Regions from separate parts of the Homo sapiens genome. Here region 2 is linked to region 1. Evidence: fine-mapped expression QTL. A gene starts in region 1. The other region holds a variant in brackets. All regions are shown on one strand. Distances are from middle to middle.

Region 1 (4,000 bases):
AAATATGGTAGAGTTCCTATATGTCCATCAAACTTCCTCAATTACAATGATTAAAACCAGGAATAAGATTGATAAAATACTATTAATTAATCTAGAGATTTTATTCTAATTTCATCAAATTATCCCACTGGTGTTCTTTTTCTGGACCAGGATTCAAGCCAGGATCACACATTACATTTAGTTGTCATATCTCCTCAGTCTCCCAATCTGAGATGGTTTCTCACCCCTTGTCTTTCATGATCTTGACACTTGAAGATACTGGCCAGTTATTTTGTAGATTGTCTCTCATTTTGGATTTGTCTGATGTTTCCTCATAATTAAATTCAGCTTATGCAGGCTGGGCATTGTGGCTCATGCCTGTAATCCCAGCACTGGGAGGCAGAGGTGGGGGGATCACCTGAGTCAGCAGTTCGAGACCAGCCTGGACAACATGGTGAAACCCCATCTCTACTAAAATTACAAAATTTGCCGGGTATAGTAGTGCATGCCTGTAAACCCAGCTACTTGGGAGGCTGAGGCAGGAGAATCGCTTGAACCCAGGAGGCAGAGATTGCAGTGAGCCGAGATTGCACCATTGCACTCCAGCCTAGGCAACAAGAGTGAAACTGTCTCAAAACAAACAAACAAACAACACGCACAAAAAATCAGCTTATGCGTGTTCGTCAAGAATACCACAGAAGTGATTTTGTGCGCTTCTCATTGCATCATGTTCAGAGGGACCTGGTAAGAATACCTCTCAGCTGGGGGCAATGGCTCATGCCTGTAATCCCAACACTTTGGGAAATCAAGGTGGGAGGATGGCTTGAACCCTGGAGTTCAAGACCAGCCTAGGCAACACAGCAAGACCCTGTCTCCTTAAAAAGAAGAGGGAGGCCGGGCGTGGTGGCTCATGCCGGTAATCTCAGCACTTTGGGAGGCCGAGGTAGGCAGATCACTTGAGGTCAGGAGTTTGACAGCAGCCTGGCCAATACGGTGAAACCCCATCTCTACTAAAAATACAAAAATTAGCCGGGCGTGGTGGCACGAACCTGTATTCCTGGCTACTTGGGAGGCTGAGGCGGGAGAATTGCTTGAGCCCGGGAGGGAGAGGTTGCAGTGAGCCGAGATCGCGCCACGGCACTCCAGCCTGTGTAAGTAACAAAGCGAGACTCCGTCCAGCCTCGCCCCCCGGCAAAAAAAGAAGAAGAAAACAATACCTCTTATCACTAGTGATGCTAACTTTGATCACTTAGTTAAGGTGGTGTCTGACAGATTCTTATCTGTAAAGTTGCTATTTTTTTCCCTTTGTAACTAGCAGGTGTCTTGTGGGGATTTATTTCGATACAAGGCTATAATTTTGATTCTAAGTGACTAGAAAACTATGAACAGAAATAGGGAGATCAGACATAAATAAAGGGCTTAGAACCCATAGACCGGTGTCTGGAGAACTGGTAGGGGTGAAGCATCGGTATGAAGGTGATCTGGGTTGGCTTCAAACGCTGAAGTGAGATGTGGCTTGTCACCAGCGCGTGGGGATGGCAAATCCGCTGAATAGGGTCTTCAGGAAGATATTAGTGGCTCTGCGAAGGTTTCCCCAGAGCCCTTCCCCTCCCCTGCCAGCGCCGCTTTGGAAGCCGTCTGGGAGGCTGCACCCGCCAGGACTCCTGAGTGCGGGGTTTTGGCGGCAAATGACAGTAGTGCGTCCGCGCGGCACGGGTAAGTCAATGCGCACGCGCCGACAGGAGGCGCGGGGCGGGGCACGGCGCAGGGGTGGGGCCGCGGCGCGCATGCGTCCTAGCAGCGGGACCCGCGGCTCGGGATGGAGGGTGAGTGAGTAAACAAGCCTGGGCCGGGCGGTGGGGCCGGGCCTCCTCCCCTCGCCGCCCTGGGCCTGAGGGAGGGAGAGGCGGAGGGATCAGGAAATTGGAAGGAATCCGAGGGACACACTGCCTGCCTGGCCGGGGGTAGCAGGCGCCCCTCCTCATTCCGAGGGTGGGGGAATGGGGGCGACGGGGCGAGAGAGACCCAGGCGAGGACAGCGTCTGGGGCTGCGAGGGCTGTGTGCCCGGGAGGAGGAGCGGCGGGGGCGGGCTCGGGGACGGGGAATCCCGTTGGATGGCGGTGTGGGCCGGTGGGCGGGAGCCCCAGCGCCCAAAGGGCGCGGGAGGGCGGTGGCACCTGCGGGGGCCTTTAGCGAGGTGGACTCTGGGGACCTGGAGCTGTGCTTGGGGAGGGCTAGAGACCGGGGCTGATCTTGCGATGGCTTTCGGGGATGTTGAGGAGGGGTAGCAGTAAAAACAAGGCCGGGACTAGGGTGAGGTGAGTAAGGCTCCCAAGGCACAAAGTGTAAAGGAGCACTGACTCAGGGTCGCGCAAGTGCAGTGAGCGCCTCCTCACGTGCGTCCTGGGTGCCTCGGTCGCCTCACCCCAGGCCTGGCCCTGAGCAAGAATCTCCTTCACTCCAGACTTTTGGTCTCACGCCAATGATCGCTCACCCCCACCATTCAACCGAGGATCAAATGATATAAATAAAAGTGCCTTGAAGCACAGACAAGGTGTTGTATTTGGGACATGCCTGTTAGGAAATGTGGGACAAACTTTTATTTCAATAAAAAGTGACTACTGAGGAATTGTTTCTTGAGCAGGGAAGGGAAGGGATACCTGAAGGATGTTAGTGCCCCCCGTGGAATGTGAAGGAATATGGAGGGTGAAATACAGGGTTGTATGTGATGTAGCCCAGGCCGATAGGAACCTGACGCTTGGCAGGGGAGGATGAAAGCAAAGGAGCTCAGGTACACTAACAATTAGGTGGGTGCAAGGATGGCAATGAAAACGCGAGTCTCCTCCACGTTTGCTGCCATACTGCCGCTGAATAAAAAAATTCCCACACCCCATGTTTTTTAAATTTAGGAAACTGATATTGAAGGAGGTTTCCAGCCTGAGAAGGTGCTAACCCTATTAGAGGTTTCTGTGAAAGCTTGTCTATTTTAAGTCTTGGAATCCCCAGATATGCCACTGATAAAAGAGATTACTTACATAGGAGAGAGTGTGTGTTAGGAGATAAGTACTTTAGACTGGGCTCGGTGGCTCATATCTGAAATCCCAGCATTCGGGAGGCCCAGGCAGGAGAATAGCTTGAGCCCAGGAGTTTGGGACCAGCTCAGGCAACAATAGCGAGACCTCATCTCTACAAAAAAAAAATAGCCAGATGTGGTGGCCTTCTCCTATAGTCCCAGCTGCTTGGGAGGCTGAAGCAGGAGTATTGCTTGAGACTGGGAGGTCAAGGTTGCAATGAGCTCTGATCCTGCCACTGCACTCCAGTCTGGGTGACAGCACCTGAGACCCTGTCTCAAGAAAAAAAAAAAAAGCCTGGCACGGTGGCTCATGCCTGTAATCCCAACACTTTGGGAGGCTGAGGTGGACCGTTCACTCGAGCCCAGGAGTTTGAGACCAGCCTGGGCAACATGGGACAACTCCATCTCTACTAAAAATACAAAAATTAATCAGGTGTGGTGGCACACGCCTGTAGTCCCAGCTACTCGGGAGGGCTGAGGCATTAGAATCGCTTGAACCGGGAGGTGGAGGTTGCAGTGAGCCGAGATTGCACCACTGCACATCAACCTGGGCAACAGAGTGAGATTCTGTCAAAAAAAAAAAAAAAAAAAGGAGGCCTGGCACAGTGGCTCAGGCCTGTAATCCCAGCACTTTGGGAGGCCAAGGCAGGCGGATCACTTGAGGTCAAGAGTCCGAGAGCTGCCTGGGCAACATGGCGAAACTCCTTCTCTACAAAAATACAAGAATTAGCTGGGCGTGGTGGTGGGTGCCTGTAATCCCAGCTATTCAGGGGGTTGAGGCACGAGAATCGCTTGAACCTGGGAGGTGGAAGTTGCAGTGAGCCGACATGCACCACTGCATTGCAGCATGGGTGACAGAGCAAGACTCCATCTCAAAAAAGAAAAAAAAAAGGGAGAGAGAAGTACTTAAAAACGCACATACATAATAGGAGAAAGGACTATCTATA
Region 2 (4,536 bases), 28 kb after region 1:
AATTTTTGGTTAGTAAAAAGCTTTGTTTATGGTAAGGGCATTATGATTTGCCCGCAATTTGATTATTTCTTGCTTACTCAATTACCTCTAAATGCCCCCCTTACTATATTAAGGGTCATCGTATACTGGCTTTTGAGTGAGTCTGGGCAGAGAACATTTACTCTGCCATTTTTCTGGAGAGTTAACTCCAGCACCATCTTAACAAATCCTTCCCTCCCCTTACTTTCCAACATTTGCCCAACCCAGCATAATTACAATGGTGGACCCACTCTAGTTATCTACCATTCTCTTATCAACCAGACCTATAAAAAACACCCATCCTCCCTTGGCAGACCGTAGGTGAGCTACTGTCAGTACCCAATCTGTATTTCCTCAGTGGAGGCAGTTCCTCGGAGGAACTCTTATCTCTCTTTTCTTAAATAGGTATCGAGAACTAACAGAGATGTCAGACCCCAATGCACTTCCCCCTCAGTGCACACCCAACATCGATGGCCCCAATGCCAAGTCTGTGCAGCGGGAGCAATCTCTGCACTCCTTCCACACACTTTTTTGCCGGCGCTGCTTTAAATACGACTGCTTCCTTCACCGTGAGTGGGGCTACTCTGTTTGAAATGCTCTCCTCTCTTCCATCCCCAGCCACCATTTCCTTCTCTTTGTTCTGGTTTCTCGTATAGAGTTCCTGGCTTCTGTTCTAACGTTTTACAAAGGGCCAGTTCTATTTTCCCTTGCTCAATTATAGTGCAACATGCTTTGCATGATAGGGACAGACTAACTAGCAACTTATCTGTCCCTCAGTACCTCTTAGCTTTGAAAGCATTGTGTTGATGTCAGAAATGACTGAATTTTGTGCACCCTGATGGTAGCCGTTTATATCGAATTCTAACTCCTACAATAGCTCTCTAATTCACTTTTGTTTCTCCCCATCTTGTCAAGTGGATAGACCACTGGCAACAAGACAGTTTTTGTTTTCCAGCTTTTCATGCCACCCCTAATGTATATAAACGCAAGAATAAAGAAATCAAGATTGAACCAGAACCATGTGGCACAGACTGCTTCCTTTTGCTGGTATGTTCTTAAGCTGTTCTGGCATTATTAACTTCATTCTGGGAACACAAGCCACGTGAGCCAGTACACAGCACTCTGGGGGTCATATAGCACAAATAAAACATGGCTTTTGCTCTTAAGGAGCTCCCCAGTTACTGTGGGACCGCTCTTAAGGAACTCCCCAGACATGGTAGCACTATAAAGTTAGTCTGATGGAGTGCAGATTCGAAGATCATTAAAGGCTTGCCTGCTCTAAATATCATCTGCTTAGATTTCAGAGCCTAAAACTGTATTGTTAGAATTGGAGCAAAGTGTATGCTGGGGGGGTGGGTACACACTCTAGTTTCTTTGCTATCTTGTTATAAATGCATATAACTATGAGACGAATAGCACGTGATGATGCTGATGTCTTGTTGTGATCAACCAGATGGACCGTTCCCTGATGGACAGACCTTAAGAAGCAGCATAAATGGTCTGGCATACCTGTGGGGAAGCCATATATTGAGAGCTAGAAGGAAATAGATCAACTGGACTTGCCAAAGACACAGTTGGGCTTTTTACACAATAGGATGAGCCTAGGCGATGAATAAAATACCTTGATAAAATTTCTGCCACCTATTAAAATTATATTATACAACCAGCCAAGTGCTTTTGGAACCATCTTTAGTGGGATAATAGATGGAAAGATGGTAGAGAATGCTGTTGGGCACACATGTGGAAAATGGGCCGTACTGTAAAAGCAAAAGAATAGACGTTATTGGGTTTATTTTTTCCTAATGTGTATTGACTCCTTCCTATGTGCCAAGTATCATAGTAGACCCTTAACATACCTTGTCTTATTTTCATCCTATAACAGTGTCATGAGGTAGAGGAAACTGGATTACAAAAGTTATATATTTTGCCTAAAGTTTGTTGATAAGTCAGCGGTATGGCAGCGATGAAATTCAAGTCAGGGTCTAACTCCACAGATCATGCTTTTAAAATTACTCCATGTTTTTCAGCCAGGCGTCGTAGTGCACACCTATAATCCCAGCACTTTGGGAGGCTGAGGGAGGTGGATCACCTGAGGTCAGGAGTTTGAGACCAGCCTGGTCAACATGGAAAAACCCTGTCTCTACTGAAAATACAAAATTAACCAGGTGTGGTGGCGCACGCCTGTAATCCCAGCTACTCAGGAGGCTGAGACAGGAGAATTGCTTGAACCCAGGAGGTGGAGGCTGCAGTGAGCCGAGATCACGCCACTGTACTCCAGCCTGGGTGAGATAGTGAGACTCCATCTCAAAAAAAAAATAATAATAAAATGAAATTACTTCATCCTTAAAAAAATATATATGCCATGTTATGTCAACATACCAGCATTTATATAAGTCAAAAGGTCATTGCCCTTCTCACAGGAGTCACCTTGATACCCTGTACATGTATTACGAAGATGCTGCCAATGCCTGAAATGTATGCATGTTTAACTTACAGAGATAATGTATGCACAATTTTTCTTTTATTGC[G/A]TTTTAGGTTTGAGTGCATATTAAATATAATGCTGGACTATTTTCCCCCAACTGTTTACTAAGAACATTTTCAATCATGCAGAGTTGAAAGATACCTTCTTCCTGGATTTGATAACATTTTTTTCTGTATCTCCTTTCTCCATAAATTTGCGTATGTATATCTTTTGCTGAACCATTTGACAATAAGTTGCAGACATTGTGATGCTCATTTGGTAAATGTTTCAGCATAAAGACATTCTCTTACATAACCACATTATTACACCTAGGACAATTAATAAAAATTGTATAGTATCCTCTATTACCCATTCTATTAATATATTCAATTTTTTTTTCAGCTGTACCAAGAATAGGTATTTTTGTGTTGTGTTTTGTTTTGTTTTGTTTCCAAACCAGGATCATCCAGTCAGACATCATATTTGGTTATTATGTCTTTTTTTTTTTTTTTTTGAGACAGAGTTTCACTCTTGTTGCCCAGGCTGGAGTGCAATGGTGCAATCTCAGCTCACCACAATCTCCACCTCCCGGGTTCAAACGATTCTCCTGCCTCAGCCTCCCAAGTAGCTGGGATTACAGGCATGCGCCACCACGCCCAGCTAATTTTTGTGTTTTTAGTAGAGACAGGGTTTCTCTGTGTTGGTCAGGCTGGTCTTGAACTCCCAACCTCAGGTGATCAGACTGCCTGGCCTCCCAAAGTACTGGGATTACAGGTGTAATAAGGCGCCCGGCCTTGTTATGTCTTTTTACTCGTTTTTAATCTCAAATAATTCTATCACTTTTAAAATCTTTTTAAAAGTTCCAGGCTGGTTGTCTTGTAGGATGACCCACATCCTGGATTCATCTGTTGTTTTTTCACAGTGTCATTTCTGTGTTCTTCTGTCTCCTCTTTCTTATAACCTAGAAATTAGGTCTGGAAACTTGATTTTATTTATGTTAAAATGTTTGGCCATTATATTAAAATGGTGGCTCACGCCTGTAATCCCAGCAATTTGGGGGGCTGAAGCATGTGGATAGCTTGAGCCTAGGAGTTCGAGACCAGCCTGGGCAACATGGCAAAACCCCATGTCTATAAAAAATACAAAAATTAGCTGGACTGGACTTGGGAGGCTGAGGTGGGAGGATCAGTTGAGCCTAGAAGGTCAAGGCTGCAGTGAGCTGAGATCATGCTACTGTACTCACCTGGGTGACAGGGCAAGACCTCGTCTCAAAAAAATATATATATATATAAATACATATAATCTATTATATATTATATTATATATAAATACATATAATCTATAATATATATTATATATAAATACATATAATCTATGATATATATTATATATAAATACATATAATCTATAATATATAATATATAAATACATATAATCTATTATATATAATATATAAATACATATAATCTATAATATATAAATACATGTAATATATAGTATATAAATACATATATAATATATAAATTATATTTACATAAATTATATATATTTTATATTTATATAAATTATATATAAATATATTTATATAAATTTCATATATTTATATATTATATAAATATATATTTTATATTTATATAAATTATATAATTATATAATATATTTCCATATTATATATTATATATATAATATATAAAAATTATATGTAAATATATATAAATGTTTAAAATAGTATAATTGATACTGTATACTTCATACACAGCATAGGCACATAATATCAGGTTCAGTTAATTTTGAAACTTCTCTTTTGGAATTTCCTTTAGGCCTTACTGTATATTATTCCAAATTCCAGATACCCTTAATGATAGTTAACCTTTATTTTTTTTTCATTTTTATTACTCAAAAAAACTTCATTTTTAAATTGAGCTTTCTGACTCTGCTTGTGCCTTCAACACTTTCACAACAATTTTCTGCTGCTTGCTAAGGAAAGCACACTTGCTCCTGCACCAATACATTCAGCACACACGGATCCACCATAGGCCCTGCTGACATGCTTTTTT

Evidence for each region. PIP is the estimated chance that this variant, and not a neighbour inherited with it, causes the effect. A credible set is the group of variants that fine-mapping cannot tell apart.
Region 2: its variant is the best candidate, but not a certain one, in a credible set for the expression of EZH1 in whole blood (TOPMed, PIP 0.55).

What each region holds. Positions count from the first base shown.
Region 1 is chr17:42,742,816-42,746,815 of GRCh38, reverse strand. EZH1 (enhancer of zeste 1 polycomb repressive complex 2 subunit) reads left to right here and starts at 1,776. Exons shown (of 21, transcript NM_001991.5): 1 at 1,776-1,805. RefSeq lists a silencer at 1,619-2,198.
Region 2 is chr17:42,714,505-42,719,040 of GRCh38, reverse strand. It overlaps EZH1 (enhancer of zeste 1 polycomb repressive complex 2 subunit), which reads left to right. Exons shown (of 21, transcript NM_001991.5): 9 at 424-587; 10 at 974-1,065. It also overlaps the pseudogene RPL34P30. Among named protein-coding and RNA genes, the nearest start is that of MIR6780A, 8.6 kb to the right of the region's middle. The variant G/A (reference allele first, on the strand shown) is at 2,547.